Regions from separate parts of the Homo sapiens genome. Here region 1 is linked to region 2. Evidence: fine-mapped expression QTL. A gene starts in region 2. The other region holds a variant in brackets. All regions are shown on one strand. Distances are between the middles of the regions.

The links.
Region 1: its variant is fine-mapped to the expression of BIN3 in lung (TOPMed, PIP above 0.99).

Annotation. Positions count from the first base shown.
Region 1 is chr8:22,631,994-22,640,319 of GRCh38, forward strand. BIN3 (bridging integrator 3) reads right to left here. Exons shown (of 9, transcript NM_018688.6): 3 at 4,929-4,969; 4 at 4,532-4,593. Among named protein-coding and RNA genes, the nearest start is that of BIN3-IT1, 6.1 kb to the right of the region's middle. RefSeq lists an enhancer at 1-209. The variant G/A (reference allele first, on the strand shown) is at 3,322.
Region 2 is chr8:22,665,839-22,674,164 of GRCh38, forward strand. BIN3 (bridging integrator 3) reads right to left here and starts at 3,283. Exons shown (of 9, transcript NM_018688.6): 1 at 3,206-3,283. The coding sequence starts at 3,213. RefSeq lists a silencer at 2,983-3,142, enhancers at 3,006-3,635, 3,393-3,452 and a cis regulatory region at 7,142-7,991.

The DNA.
Region 1 (8,326 bases), 34 kb before region 2:
GGGGCAGGTCTCAGGAGAGAAGACACATTGTGAATGCATTTCTTACCATATGCATGTTACTGAATTTAAGATGCTCTTCATTATAAGTCACTTATTGTATGAACTACTAAGGGAGAAAAAATTGTTGTCAATCAAACCAGGCTACACTTTCAGTACTTTGATTTCAGAGACATTAACTGTGGAAAAAGTGTCTTAGGACCCATGACATAAGGTCTGCCTCCCAGTTAATCACAGATGTGGCCTTGCCTAGCACTCCATGGCATGAACCTGAACCCTGACCCTGCGCTCCCCGGGGAAGGGTCTGCCTCCGCCAGGCCCCTTCACCAGTCAGCAAAGCAGCGCTGAGCGGACTAGCCAGCCCGGAGCACCCTCCTGGGGTTTTTCTGGAATCTGGGAGAGTGCTACAGTCAACCAGCAAAAGGGCAAACTGTGGGAGAAGGCTGGAAATGTAAACTTTCCAGAAATGTTGAAGCAACGGAGGGAAAAACACCTCTTAAATTCTGTGGAGTGACTCTGTAGATTTAGGAACAAACGTTACGTATAACTTGATTTGATTATGAAATGATCACATACAGCATAATAAAAAGATAATAAAATTCTGGATAAAGCTGGAAATGTTTCTGAAAAACATCTTCTGCTATTTCTTAAAAAAATATCTGAGGAAAACAACCCAAAAAGCCAGAGGAGCGAGGACACGGTCTTTCCACTTTCCTTTTTTTTTTTTTTTTCAGACGGAGTTTCGCTCTTGTCACCCAGGCTGGATGGAGTGCAATGGCATCATCTCGGCTCACTGCATCCTCCGCCTCCTGGCTTCAAGTGATTCTCCTGCCTCAGCCTCTCAAGTAGCTGGGATTACAGGTGCCTGCCATCACACCCACCTAATTTTTGTATTTTTAGTAGAGACGGGGTTTCACCATGTTGGCCAGGCTGGTCTCGAACTCCTGACCTCAGGTGATCTACCTGCCTTTGCCTGCCAAAGTGCTGGGATTACAGGTGTGAGCCACTGCGCCCAGCCCAGCTGCATTTTCCCCTTTCTTTCCTAAAGCTCTTGCATTGTCAGGAAGTCAAGGAACTGAGTGGGCTCAGTGGCCGGCCCTGGGCAGAACTGGGTCTGGAATCCCCGCCCAGTGATGCCCCCGCTTCATGTGAGCAGAGCAGAGCTGGGGTAGATGACACCAAGAACACCATGGTCTTGGCTGGGCGTAGTGGCTCATGCCTGTAATCCCTGTGCTTTGGGAAGCTGAAGCAGGAGGATCCCTTGAGCCCAGGAGTTCGAGACCAGCCTGGATGACACAGTGTGACTCTGTTCCCCCTCAACAAAAATAAACAGCAGGTCTCCATGCCCCTCTGGACCTGTGGTCCCTGCCCCAGCCCATACCCCTCATTGTTCCCTGCAGGGACTGGGAGAGGGGCACAGTCAGCCTGGCCCACACCAGGAGGCTGGTGATCTTTGAACCTTAGAGAAAGTGAGGGTCTTGGACCCCACCCGGGTCTCTGGAGTCCTGATGCGGCCTCTGGAATGTAAGATTCAAAGATTCACCAGAGCACTCTGAAAGTAGTATGAGTTTCTGAAAGAAAGGTCATCTTTTTTAGAATAACTGGGGATTTTCCACCTTGCTGGGGGAGCGCAGGAGATTCCACGCTCAGGAAAAGCATCCCTCCATTCCCCTCAACTGTCCAGATCAGTGGAGCTCACAGTGTGGGCCTCAGCATCACCTGGGAACTCCAGGGACACACATTTTCAGGTCTCGCCCAGCTCATGAGTTAGTTGGAGGCTGGAGGTGGGGCCCAGCGGCCCACGGCACAGCAAGCCCGCCTACAACACTGATGCCCCGTACATGAGACTGATGTGGCTGTCAGGCTCGCCTTGGCCCCATGACCACCACCACCGCTCTTCAGAGGCACTGTCTCTGCCCACATCCATTCCTGACTGAGGACAGTAGTGTTAGGCTTCTGCAGTTACCCATTCAACTCTGGTTTCTCTGCTGGGAAACTAAGCTTTCCACAGCCATGGACGGTGCGTCACGGACCCCTGATGCCCTCCTTGGTTCCGTAGCAAGCCACTGTGAACACAGCACACCCTGGCTTCGTTTATGCTCTGACAATGCAGCTGTCTGCAGAAGCAGGAAGGAAAGGAAGCAATGGCTCACAGCAGCTCCCGAACTGGAAAGGCAGTGGGGACCGATCAAGAAAAATGCGACCCAAGTAACTCAGACCTGAAATAACTACAAAACAAACAACTGCAGACAAACTCCCAAATCCAGTCCTTGGCTTGTGACACACATAGTTTGGCAACGCTAGAGGCCAGGAGCAAGGTGCATGTTCAGACCAGCCCACGGCCCAGGAATTAGCACTGGCATGAAAATTCATGGCACAGACCAAGACGGCCACAGTCCCTGCACAGGCAGTCAGCGCTCACCCGGGCATGGTGGTGGTGACGGCGGCTCCCAGGGAAGGAACGCTTTCCTTTTGTGATCAGTGCTTTGTAGGAAAGGTGTGTTTACACATCAGTAACTGGCTGAGGCTTAGGAGCTGGCATAAAATGGGAACAAATTCAAATCACTGCCTCTATTGGGACATTTCAAGGGTTTTCCTCGTAACTGCAGTACCAAGTAGGAGCACACTGGTCCTCAAGTCCCACCCGTAGGTGCCCACTGCCCTGTGGCCCTTTGAATGGTGTCAGGAGACAGTGAGGCCGCCCCATTTGCACTAGGCTCACAGACAGCCAAGCAAAGAGTGGATGGGCAACGGTTCCGGAGTGGGGGCTGTTTCGGTCACCTTCTAGTTTGGTGGCGGGCACGGGGGTGGGCAAAGGAATGAGTGGGGCATGGGGAGGCTTCGCTGTGGAGACAAGGCCCTGGACTTGGAGAAGAGGAGCTGAACTCTTCCTCCTTTATCAAATGGACATGCCCATTTATAAAATGGGTGTGTCATGTGCCCTGCCAATCTCAAGGTCAGAAAAGCTCAGGGAGGTGAAATTTCTTCACAGCCATAACATGGCATTATTCAGCAGCTGGAGTGGCCGAGGGGACTGAAGATGGCTTCTCCACCCTCCTGCTGCCTCTCCTGCATCTCTGGTCAGCGTGCACCACCTTAGGGCCTCCGCGCTTGCTGTCCACTGTGTTTCAGGCCCTCTTCCCTTGGCTCTACCTGTGTGGGTTATTCATTCCTTCAGGACTCTGCCCAGGGATCACGTCCCCACGAAGGCCTCCCTTGACCCTGTCACTCTCCACCTCCTTATTTTTATTGACCTTGCACGCCACGACGTGTCATTATATACCGATCCGCTTGTGGACCTCTTGCAGGTCTTCCTCCTAGAAC[G/A]TAAGCTCCCATCTTGTCTTGCTGTTGAGTCTCTAGTGCTGAGAGTGCCTGGTGCACGTGGGTTCTCGGTCAGCATCTGCTGAGTGAGAGGAAGTGGGCAGTCCTGGCCATACCCAAGTCTCTTTCAGGTCCTCGTCCCAGTGTGGTATATAGACACGGCTTCCCCACTGGACCCAGGGAAGGAGCTGCAGGAGTCCACCCAGTCAGGGAGGCTTGCTGCCGACCATGACGACGGTGATGACAGGAGCGGACACCCCGAGAGCTGACCCGTGCCAGGCCCTGTTCTCAGTGCTTTACGTTGCTCATCCAACTTCATCTTCAGCAACAGCCTGTGCCACTCGGATTGGCGTTACCTGTGCTTCTCGGGTGACGGAACTGAGGTAGAGCTAAGTCAGCTGTCCAGAGCTGCGCAGGGAGTGCTGAAGCTATTGATCAACCTTTGGTCAAGTGCTTGCTGCTCCGGGGTGGGAAAGTCAAGGCCTTGGAGAAAGAACCTCAAGGAATGGTCTCCATCTCTCCCGGCTGCTCGTCGCCTCCTTCCTGGGACATGGCCTGCAGCAAGGGCTCTGGATGCTCCCTTATTCCCGACCTGCTTGTGTCTCTAGGCTCCCAGGCCTGGTTCCTCCTTGTTTCAAACAAGAGCTCTCCAGCCAAGAAACCTCCCCAAGGGCCCTGGCTGTTTCCCAGCACCTGCTGGCCCCCACTTCCCAAGGACCTCCCGGTGCCCTTTGTCATCATAGAATTATCTGGGGTATTTCTGGCCTTACACTTTAACCCAACCTCCTGTTTAAACACATGACAGCTTCCATTCTTGTTGCCACTGGAGCGCCTGTCCCAGCAGGCCACGGAGTCTCGTTTCTGCGGGAAGGAATGTGCTTCCCTTTCCCTCTGGACAGCCTGAGCCGGTGGCCAGGATTCTGAGGCAATGGAGGCATCTGCTACCAGAAGCTTCCACCAGCTGCTGTACTGTCCTGACTGGAGTCCCAGGAGAGCCTTGCCCCAGCACCCACATCCAGAGTGGGGCAGTGCGAGCTCTGTGCAAAGTGGGATGTGACTGGTGAGGAGTGACTGCCCTGAGGCTGCTTCTCAGGACACTGGGTACACGTCCTCTGAGCGCAGCAACTTCAGAGCCCTTGGGGGGCTGAGAGAGGAGGGTGCCCACCTCTGCCCCACCTGCTCAAGCGAGTGGTGCGGGTGGAAAGTCACCTACCCAGGTCTGCGTCGGTGCTCTTCTTCATGTCTTTCTGCAGCCTCCGGGTCTGCTCTTCCAGCCTGCAAGGCAGGGGACGGGCTGCTTGGGGTCCCCTTCCTTCCCCCTACCTGAGCGAAGCCCAGGTGCTCTGGAGGGCCTGCCAAGGAGGAGGAGAAAGGGATCTTCTCCACGGGGACTTTTCCCGCTGACTGAAGTGCCACTACACCCAAAGGCTATGAGTGAATGACTCTCACATGGCCATTGCCAGGGAACAGTTCCAGCAGCCTGGTGACCTGAGCTGCCCTCAGCTTCCAGGGTGCTCACGGGGCAGGGCACGGGGCAGACAGGTGAGACCTGGCAGGGGGCCCTTGTCCCTCCCTGCCTCCCACCTCATCTTTCTGGGGTTGACACTCACTGCTGAAGTTTTCCATACTCCCTTTCAAAGTCTCTCTCCACCTGAAACGAGAGAGATAACTCAATTATCGGAGAAATGACAACACGGTGGAAAAAACCTCCCAGCCTCCTGAAACTCTCTCCACACCCTGCCCCAGTCCGCAGAAAACAACATGGTCCAGTTCACACAAGCACCGACAGATCGCTCCTGACACGGTATTTCTGAGATCCCAAGTTAATTAAGTGTTTGAATTACGGAGGAAGGCTCCCCTCCCAGAGGGTCCAGCCAGGCAGGTGCCAGCGGACTGTGGCTCTGCTCTTCCCAGCTGGGAGCAAGGCACTCGCTGCATGCCCTCCTCACCCCAGGCTGGAGGCAGTCAGGGTGCTCAGAACGTGACTGGACCCCATCCAGGAAGGCAGCAGAGTGCAGAGGAGAGGGCGGGTCTGGAATTGGGGGTCTGTCTCTGCCTTTTCCTAGTTTCCAGGTCCATGCAGGGCACCTCCCCTCCTACGCGGCCCTCCACTCAGGGCCACCTGCCCCTGCTGGGCTCAGGGTGGGTCAGGAACAATCGTGCACCTGTGCTTTGTGATTGGGATGCATCAAACACAGACACTGTGACTACTGACTCAGGTCAGGCTCTCTCCATTCCCGACCGGGTATCAACTCTCTTGAGAGCCAGCAACACTGAAACCAAATGGGTGAGTCCTGAACCCGGGGCTGCACTTGTTGCGGAAGATGAAGTTAAGAAGTCTAGTACTTTCTTCTGGTGCCTTGACTTCACTATCTGTAAAACGGAGCCTCATGATTGGTCTCTTATGGGCATGCAATGGGAAGTAAATGACATCGAGAGGCAAAGGAGACTAAGCTAGAGGCCTGCCCTCCCTGGCCAGAGCTGCAGCCGTCAGGTGCCAGCTTCGGGCTTCGTGCTCTGAGAAGTCAAAACCGCTAACTCACATTCACAGAGCCCTCACTGTGTGCTTTACAAGAATGCAGTTCTCTACACTCATCTCCAAGGCAGGTCACCGGGAACCAGGTTACGTACCCTGGCCAAGGTCACCCCATTGGTGAGGGGTAGAGTTGAGCACAGTGGGAATGGAACCCAGGCAGCCTGGCTCCACAGCCTGTGTTCGTAACCATCATTCTCCTGGAAGGCATTTGCTGACCCAAGAAAGAAGTCTTCCTGGCTGCTCCCTGGGAATCCTGTCCCCAAGAGCCCTAGATCCTGACTTCTGCTCTGAGGGTCAGGGAGTACACATCTGCAGAAACTGTCAAAGCCACGCTATTCCTACCACTGTCTTCCAGCAACGCTGACCTGATGAGAGAATTCTAAGCCCCTTAACCTTAGCACTCCACGTTTGGATTTAGATTAATTCAACATAGCCCTGGAATGACAAAACAGCATTTATGCTACAAATGAGGAGCCCGAAGCCCAGAGACAGGAGTGACTTCCCTAAGGATGCAGGACATTCTGGTGGCAATGCAAGGCTAGAATCCAGAGTCCTGGTTCAGGTCTTTTTGTTTCAAATTTAAACAACATTCATTCCTACGAACATGTATGAGCACCTATTAAGTGCGATGCATTCTGCCAGGTTCTGGGGATACCCTGGTGATTCAAACAGACATGGGCCCTGGTGGTGGAGATAAACAACTGCCAGATACAAATTTACTTGCTGACTATGATGGGCCTTTTGGACAGCAGGAATGAGGCCAGAGAGAGTTGAACACAGAGTCTGCTTAGCTCTGGCTCTCTGGGCATGACAACAGACTCACTGCATGGAGATAGCTTACCTTCCTCATTTCAACTGTAAAATCCAGAAGCAGGAAAAAAATGATCTTTTCCTTACTTTATGATCCTAGCATCTAGAACCTTCCACAAAACTGTGAAGTAAAACCCACCATTGGTGCCCCCGCCTCCCATCCTACAATCTTTCTTCCTCTTTTCAACAGACTCTTTCTCCATCCAGGAACCCACTATTTTTATCATTACTTACCTTAGGATCCAGCAAAAGCTACTCGTAAGAAAAAAATTCAAAAATCACTCCCACTAAAGCACAAATGCTTGATGAGCATTTAAAGTGTTGCCTGTCCCAGGGGATTTACAAGTTTGCAGGAACCAAAGTCTTAGCTAAAGGAACGGAAAGACTCTGGTGTAACTGCAGGTGGGAAATTTGCTTTGGTGTGAAGGAGCCTCGCCAGGGCCCTTGAAAGTCTGTACTTTGGTGTCAGCCTGGTTTTCTCCAGCAGGGCTGGAAGAATGCAGTTTAGAGGCATGAGCAGAGACAGGTAAGATATGAACTCTGATACTAGCTGTGGAGACTTGATAGTACTAAGCATTTTTTTTTTTTTTTTGAGACAGGGTTTTGCTCTGTTGCCCAGGCTGGAATGCGATGGTGGCATCATGGCTCACTGCAGCCTTGACCTTCTAGGCTCAAGCAATACTTCTGTCTCAGCCTCCTGCATAGCTGGGACTATAGGCATATGCCATTATGCCTGGCTAATTTTTTAAATTTTAGTGGAGACGGGATTTTGCTATGTTGCCTAGGCTTGTCTTGAGCTCCTGGCCTCAAGTGATCCTCTTGCATTGGCCTCCCAAAGTGCTGGGATTACAGGTTTAAGCCACCTCACCCAGCCAACTTTAGGTGGCTTACGAGGAAATAGCTGATATCATCTACCCCAGTGGTTCCTTTTGAGGATTAAGAGGCAGTGCGTGTAGAGCAGATTGCAAGGTGCCTGGCCCATGGCAGTCCTCACTAAATGTTAGTTTCTGTGTTTTTCTCCTGCTCACTGGGGTGCTGGGAAGACCAGAGCAATTTGGGGCTGCAGGCTGGGCTATAAACCTGGGCTATAAGCTGCCCCAAGCACACAGGAAACTAGCAGCCAGGGAAACCCTGATGTTGGTTAAGGGTGGAGTCCCATGCTTGGGTGTTGTGATAATGCCCTAGCTCCCTTTACTAGACACACTTTTTTTTTTTTCTTTTGAGGCGGAGTTTCGCTCTTGTCACCCAGGCTACAGGGCAATGGCGTGATCTCGGCTCACCGCAACCTCCGCCTCCCGGGTTCAAGCGATTCTCCTGCCTCAGCCTCCCGAGTAGCTGGGATTACAGGCATGTGCCACCGCGCCTGGCTAATTTTCGTGTTTTTAGTAGAGACAGGGTTTCTCCATGTTGGTCAGGCTGGCCTCGAACTCCTGACCTCAGGTGATCCCCCCCGCCTCGGCCTCCCAAAGTGTTGGGATTATAGGCGTGAGCCACTGTGCCCAGCCTGCTGGACACATCCTTCTTCTTCTTTTTTTTTTGAGACAGAGTCTCACTCTGTCGCTCAGACTGGAGCGCGGTGGCACAATCTCTGCTCACTGCAACCTCTGCCTCCCAGGCTCAAGCAATTCTCATGCCTCAGCCTCCCACGTACAGCTGGGACTA
Region 2 (8,326 bases):
GGGCAGACAGAGGTAGAAGACCCCGGAAGAGTCAGAAAAATATCACTCCACTCATTTCACAGCAGGCTCAGGTGGCAAATTGTCAGCAGGAATGGCCACTCCATGCTACAGATGGAGAAACTAAGACAGAGAACAGCTCAATGCTTGACCAGGCCGCACTGTGAGTGGCTGAGCCAGAACCTGAACGCAGCACTCTAACTCCTACTCACACTTACCTGCTCTGCCTCTAATTTCCTTCCTTTTTGTCAAACTACTGGACCCCTAGGTATAGGGAGATTTCTTCCAGTACTCCCTTTTCCTCCTCGTTTAAGCCTAAAATCATCAAGGTGTATGGTTCAACAGGAGGCTACAATTCCTGGAGCCAGCTTAGATTGAGGTCACTATTCTTAATTCTACTTAATCCTCTCTCCATACCATAATAAAGCCACCTGAGTATACACTGGAAGATGGGGAAGAGAGACAGGAAGGGGAAAAGGGAGACAAGAGGGAGACAGAAATAGGGAGGGAGGGGGTGAGTGGGGAGGAGAGGAGAGAAAGTTGGGAGGGGGGCAAATGGCGGGGGGAGGTGGGGTGGACAATGGGAGAGAAAAAGAGAGCGAGAGAGAGAGAAGCATTTGGCTTGAGGCCAAGAAGTGAATCTGTGATCTGAGATGTGAATATCAAATGCCTTCTTCCTAGTAGGACAGACCACCGGGTCACTTTTCTGAAAGGCAGATGGGTGTATGGGGAGTGGATGGGTAGATGGTGCAGGAAGGCAGCAGGTACCCACTAAACAAACAGGGGGTGGGCGGGTTGCCTGCACAGAGGAAGCAGAGAACAAAGGCCTCTCACTCTTCATGCAAAGTCCACAGTGTGCAAAGGGCATCAATATTGGACATTTCTCACTGTGACATTTTGAAAGCTCAGCCTAGCCCAGAACAATGGTTACCCTCTGGGGACCATGGGCCATGTGCCTTATTTAATGATGGCTTGGCACAGCCCATGTACTTGGTGAACTTGACCTTGGGCATCAGCCTCCCATGATGGCTCTACGTCACTCTGGTCTCTTCCCCTAATGAGAATTCCAGTCTCACATGAATGGATGGATTCATTCTGGGGGCAGGAAAACCACTCAGGGAGTGAATCAGAAGGACCCAGCCCCGGTCTCCTTGCCAGCCATTGAGCTAGGAACTGAGTGTGATTGTGTGCCCAGGCGCCGGTGCTGTTCCCGTCTTTGAGAGACAGGGTCAGGGTCCACGCAAGAGATGACGTAGAAGCCCTTTAAGGGGGAAGAGAAAGGAATCTCAGCTTTGAGGGACAAAGCCACCCTTCTGGCTGTGACTCTCAGTCCAAGGAGATACCAAGATGTGCATGTACTGGTAAATTAAAGCTACTAGATGAAAATCTCAGCTCTTGTTAGACAGTTGTCAATCTCAATTCTCTCCAACCTGACAGGATAACCTTTAAGGAATGGGCTACTATTTTTTCAGAAGGGAAACTTTCTGTGAGACAGGTGGAAACAACCTGCTTCGGATCACCCAGAGAATCATTTACCTTTATTAGTTTCTGCTGTGCTCTTCTCCCAACTTGTGAAGGAAAGATTGGTTCAGTAAAGGCCAATCTAGGCAATATAAAGCATCTGTACTGCCTCATTTTCACTTTGAAAAATTAGGTAAGAACACTCCAAAGATTCAAGACGCAGCAGCCAAAAGGATATCTATATTGCAAGACTGGGGGGCCCAGAATGACACTGAAAGGACGTAATTCCTCTGGGAAAGGGAACTGAAGAATTGCCGCTTTGCCCACCACTAACTAGGTTATAACAAGACAGGGAAGGTAGCTTTTTAAGGCTCCAGCCCCTTATTGGCCTCCTGGAGCAAATGGTGGAGGGAAAAGCAGAAGCTCCTGCCGGGGCTTATTAGGACATTGCTTCAGGCTTTCCTCCCGTGCTTGCGGTGATTGTCTGACATTTGTCCATCAATCTTGGTCTAAGAAACAGGTGGGGGAGGGGACAGATGGTTCGCATTTTACTTTAGAGAAGTATCCCTGACACTGACTGATATCAGCTGCTTGCGTTCTCCACTGATGGCCAAAATTAAGCTTCAAAAGCCTTCCTGAAGGACATTCTGTTATCTTAATTCATTCATAACTGGTTATCATGCGCTTTGCATAAACAAACACACTAGCCTCTGAGGACAGAGTGGCAAATATGTTCCCTATGTCCATGGGCTGATTAATCTTGTACATCTCTGGGGCTCAATTTATTCACACACTATAGTTGAATCCCCTGAGGTCCAGGGTTGTGGCTATATAGGTCCTTGGGCCTGACGGTAAGGTAAGGTGCTGCATATGAGTATTCTCTAACCTCTAAGAAAGCCCCAGGAAGGCAGGCAAGTCACAATTCTCTCCTGTGAACATAAATAATCGAGAGCAACAAATGGGGATTGCCTTTTGGGCAAACTGAGTCTTACAAAATAAATACACCATTATGAAGTGTCTACTATGACCCAAGTATCACATCATACTGCAGCAACTGGAATTGTGACTCTATTACTCTAAGACTCCCTGGCTTCTTTTCTCATGGCATGATAGTTCCCATAAGTTTAAACTTAACCATGCCTATTTAGAGGGCAGGCAGTGAGTAATAGCTCTGGAATGATTAAAACCAGTCCAATCCCACAGTGGAAGGGTGTGTGCGGAGTGTAATTCTGGCCCCTTTAAAAAGAGAAGCAAGTTTTCCTTGTCTTTTGAAGCCTGCTAAGTCGTGCAAAGAGGATAGTTACCCAGAAGGGAGTGGGTTTTGATTAGTGAACTGGGTCCAGGCTGCCACAGCGAGGGCCACAGCTCTGGAGGGACTGGCGCGGGGCAGAGATGCCCACAGGAGAGAAAGACGACACTGACTCCACCTCAATGGGTGTTTAAAAAAGGAGGGAACAAGGAAGTCCCTCACTTCAAGGAGCTAGGAGGACGCGAGTCCGGCAAAACGGGTCAGACGCGGAGTCCCAGGCTAAGAGGATCATCCGCCACTCTCCCCGGGAGTCCTGCTGAGAGACTGCGACTCCGGAAAGCACCGAGGGAACGACCCTAGGGCAGGGGCTGTCGGGCCTTGCTCTGGGGCGGAGGGGTCGCGCGGGACCGGAGGGAGCCGGGACGCGGCACTGACACAGGGCCAGGGGCCTCGCGGGTCCGCGGGTCCAGCAGCTCCCGCCGCCTGGGCCTCACTCACCAGCTCATGGTCCCGAACCTGCGTCTGCCGCCGGGGTCCTCAGCCACAACTCGTTTCTCTAGGGTCACTTCCGGATTCAACCAGTCTCCAGGAAGTGACGTAAGCCCGCCTCTCTGCCCGGAAGAGGCGGTTGGGAGGCGGAGCCCGGCGCGTTAACCCTTCTGCTGCTGCGTGCTCGCCGCGGAGTTTCCCTTGCCGGCGACTCTCTGGCTCTGGCCAAGCGCTTAGACACACAGGCTGCAACGGGGGATGAGGGGAACCTCTGGGGGCGTTTTCTGCCTTCAACACTGACTCCTAAAGATCTCTTCACCTGACCATGCAGGGCCCTTAGCCGGGCTGTCCCCTCTGTCAAGTGGTTTCTAATCCAGAGACAGTGGCAGCAATTGTCTGTGGGAGAAGAAGCCATTTGGGATGGAGAAAGTGGAAAACTTACATTCTCTGAATGCTCTTTCCTATCTTTTACAGTTTGTACACCACACATGCATTACCTGTTACAAACAAACGGACGTTTCCCTTCCAAGATGGCACAGGGCTCTGAATATCAATAGATAGGTGCTTTTCAGGTTGGAATGTTTCCTAGAGTTATTCAACACAATAAGACGCAGAGTATGAGTTGTTCCCTGCCTTTCAGCCCTTCCCTTTGGTCTCCTCTACAGGACTCAAATGATGTAAATTGCCCCATTCGTTCTATTCCTTCATTTAACTAATACTAGTTGCACTAATATTAGTGTCAGGTACCGAGCCAACCTTAGGATACAGCTATCTCAGAGAAGTATCTGCCCTGCTCTTGTTCCTTCCCAGAGCTACTTTCCTGGAGGGAGAGACAAGCAGGCAATTATAATCATGCTATAGGATAGGATAGAATGAGGTGTGGTGGCAGCCTAGAAGGGGACCCTGAAGTAGCACATGGGGTTTTGGGGAAGGCTTCCAGGAGGAGCCAGTGTGTAAGCCAAGCCCTGAAGGCAGAATCGGGGCTAGCCAGGTGAATCTGAGATGAGGGGTGACGAGGCTCCAGGCAGAGGGAACTTACCATGGCTAAGACACAGACAGGACCAAGCAAGCAGCTGACTTGCCTCGGGTCTCCCAAAGTCAGAATTCAGGGCCTTAGTGGCTCACAAGTTGCCTGGGATTCTGGGCCGACTTGGTTTCCTCACCGCTAAGTACCTCCCTGCCTTGGAAGAGAGACAAGAAGGCAGTGAGGCCCGTGCAGGTGCTGCTGGGCCCCCAGTGACCTTCTCTCTAGGAATTCTCCTTCCTCAGATGGACCGGGATTGTTTCAGGGACTGCTTAGGGGGTTGCTAATCAATGACCTAGCGGGAAAAATATGACCAATGACCTAGAGCAGAAGTAGTGTATGATTTGTTTTGACCTCCTAGGGTGGAGTAGAGGGCTTGAGCAGGAGAGGTAGGAGGGTGGGCCACAGGATGCAGTCTCTCATTTGTGTTTTCTGTTTCCATTCTTGAGAGTCCATAGTTTGACTCAATTGACGTTTCCAATGGAGGTTGGATCCCCAAGCACATCATGCAGATCAGCTTCATTACCATGTTGTTCCTCAGGAAACAGGCCAAAATGAGCACAAGAGCAGCCTTGAAGAGTAAAGAGGAAGAGCAGAAGTCACCAAAGGGTAGCCTGGGCAGAGAGTGTGGGTAAAGGGAAAGAGAGAGTCCTTGCTGCTTTGCAGAGAGTGTGACGGATGGAAGGGCTGTTGTGGGTTTAGGAGCCTCCTGGCAGTTAGCACCTGTGAATAGTTTTCCCACCTGCTTCCTCCCTTCCCCATGTTCTGCCTCCCTCAGTTATGCCCCACAGGGATAAATATTTCCAAACGTTTTAGCCTAGGTAACTGCTATATCCTAGTAGAAGTCTGTTTCAGGGCTGGAGGGCAGCAGACACATCCTAGAGGACTAGAATGGATAAGTTCTGGACTACAAGTCTGGAGGAGTCTGCGGCTCTATTTCCAGTTCAACCTTTGACACTATAACTGACCTCAGATAAGTCACATCCCCTTTGTGGCCTTAGTCCCCTCATCTATAAGATGGAGTGGGTAGATCACATCCCAAAGTATCCAACATTGCAAGGTTCCAAGTCAGCTGTCTTGTTGACTCTAGAGGCCCTAGGGAAATAGGAGAATGGGAAAGGCAGGTGAACAGAGGGGCAAGCCCAGAGAAGTGGGCAGGTCTGAGGAACTGGTGATATCTTGGATAAAGCTAAATATGAATTTTTCTGGGGCTGTGCTGTTGACAGGTCACCTCGAAATCTTTAATGCAGCCAGCAGGATCTTTGAGGTTACTAAAAAGAATGGTGTCCTCCCAGGAGTCTGTCTGGAATGTGCCTGCTTGGTCTCCTTACCTGTGGCTCATTCGCTCAGCTAGAGGGGCACTGGGCTGAGGAGGGACAGTCAGGCATCCTGCTATCCTGTGTTCCTCCATGAGCCTGCTGTGCCATGAGGCATTGATCCCTGGGGAGCTGAACATGGAGACACACAAACACTTCCCACTGTTGTGAAAAACTCAGCCTGCAGGGTCGGGAGCTATGTCTTTCTTATTTATAACCAAAGGGACAGCATGATACAGATTGATCCTGCCCCTGCAGGGAAGGAATGGAAAAGAGAAAATTGGGTTTCTAAGTAGAAGCTGAGAGTGGAGGCGCTTTGGGTAGAGGTGGATACTCCTGGTTTCAAGCCTTGTAAATACTGATTCTTCCCCAGAAGTCTGAGCCTGAAGGTAAAAGACTGTTCAGGTGGCAGAGGTCTACTTCTGGGACAAAGCTGTTTACGAGGGGAAAAGCAGCAGCAGAACCTGCTCCACCATCAGCCCCCAACTTTTCCTTGGAGGTTTTTGCTCAGAAGTTGGTAAGCAGGTGCTTCCCACTGACTCTCATCTCTGGGATTGTCATGTCCTGTCTCTCCCAGCCTTTCCCACACAGAAGTCTAGGGCTGGCCCCCGAGTCTTTCACCATGCCAACCTCTTATTAGTGAAGAGTGAGCATTCCCAGAACCTGGACCTGGGCTGTCAGGGACTTCATTATAGCACTGGGCTAAGGCTGAAAAACTGAATGTGATAGGGCCAAATTGGTGGGCTCAGCTCTCTTGGAGCCCTAAAGGTCTTGATTCCTCAGGGAGGCTCCTGCAGATATTCAGACACAGGCCTCAGGTTTCTCTGTGGCCTCACTGCCCCACTTCTCCCTACTCTGTACCTGCTCAGTAGGACGTCTCAGAAAAATAGCTTTCCCAGGGCCTTTGGGGGGCAAGGACATAGGAGGAGGAGCAAGGGTGGGAGAAGAAGGAGGAAATCAGGGTGAGATTTCCAGTGGTGGGAGGCCCACACGGACTGCTCAAAGGTCAGGGTGAAGTGACACATCAGAAGCCAGGACAGCAAGAAGCGAGCAGAACCAGGAACGCCTGTCTGACCCGTGGCTCTGCCTCCAAGTGGCTTGAGGGAGTCTTGTCCCTCCTCTGGGCCTCATTTTCCTTGACTGCAATGGGAAAGGTCCAGGTTAGATCTGGGAGGGCGAATGGATATCATCCCATGTGCCAACTCTGATTGTCTGCTTGGAATGCAGTGTTGAGGATTCTGGGGAATCTGCCATCAGTGGGGAAGTTCTATGATTGATTAGTCATGTCTGCCTTGGACAAGAAAGAGCGATGAGATGGTTTATATTCCACTTTATTGTTATTATTTTTATTATAAGTTAACAATAATTGAGCACTCATGACATGACAGGCACTATTCTCTGCAGTTCACATTTAATCCTTGCCTCAACCCTGTGAGGTGGATACTACCATTATTATCATTTCACAGATGATGGCGCTGAAGTATAGCCATGAAGCAATAGTATAGCTTCATGAAGCAGTGAAGTGGGGTTTCTGACCTGAGCACCCTGGCTTTGATCCTTATGCTTTTGCCACTACAGTTTGCCATTTGACCTCCAACAACCTTTGGTTCTGTCAAGGCACAGTGAGGTCAGAAGCCAGCAGACAGATGGAACCAGGAGAAGCACCGCTACTAAATGGCCAGGTTGTGGGTGGAGGGAGGGCCACCCTATGACCAGGGTGCCAAGCTCAGCCTCATCCTGGGAGCTTTTATATGCTTCCTCCAGTACGGAGAGTGCCAGGCCAGCAGGTGGCAGCACCGGGCAGGGTGACAGGAAAGGGCAGCTCCTCACATGGCATGGACGTCCTTCAGGGATCAGAAGGCCCAGATGCTGGGGAAAGCAAGAACAAATGCGGGTGTGGAGGAAGGATAGCCAAGGACCCAGAGGAGGAGGAGTCCTGGCCTCTGACCTGCAGGAGCTGCCACAGCCAATGCTTTGGTTCCACCCAGCAGTGCAGGCCTCTCAGCTTGCATCTCGTGGTGCCTGCTGTGGGCTTTTTTTTTTTTTTCCTCCACTCTGGGAGAATGACTAACTTTAAGGACTAAAAAAAAAGTGTTTTGATTACACTGCCTTTTTACCAACTGGGAGCATTAGTCACCGTGGATTGCTGCAGATAACGGGGAAGGCAAGCAGCACCCCCTCCTCCCCCTCCTTCTCTCTGATTAGCTCACAGAAACCAGGAGGAGACATGAGTGAGGGAGAGTGCACCAGTAGGGAAAACAATCCCCCCGGGTTGATATGTTCCCTGGGCATCAGGCCAAGGGCTGTCCAGGCTGGGCTGCCCCCTGACAGGTAGGCTCTAAGATGGCCCCAGACCCACAATAGGAGGTACCCACTGGAGAGAACTGGCAGTAGGACCACTGAGTCCAAGGCTCCTGAGATTCTGAGTTGGGTCTGGATGGTCTGTTCCTCCAGGTAGCTCCAGGGCACACCCAGAAGGGGAAGTCAGAGGAAGTCACTGAAGACACAGCTCCTGAGCTGGGGCTCAGGATGTCTGTGATGTGGAGCTCATGCCAGGCTGTGGTATGGCTAAGGCCGCTGCCTTGAGCTGGGGCCCTCATGGCTCTACCTGGGGTTGAGACATTCCTGGCAGGTGAGGTTGGTGCTCATGCCCCACTCCCCACCCTTTGGCCTTCTCCCTTCTTCTCCATCTCCATGGGGCAGTATCTAGTACTTTTGGCTGATGTTCCTACCCAGTGCGGCCCTCTTTGCTCCCACCTTGGTGCTGGTGGGGCTGGAGAGCTGAGGTTC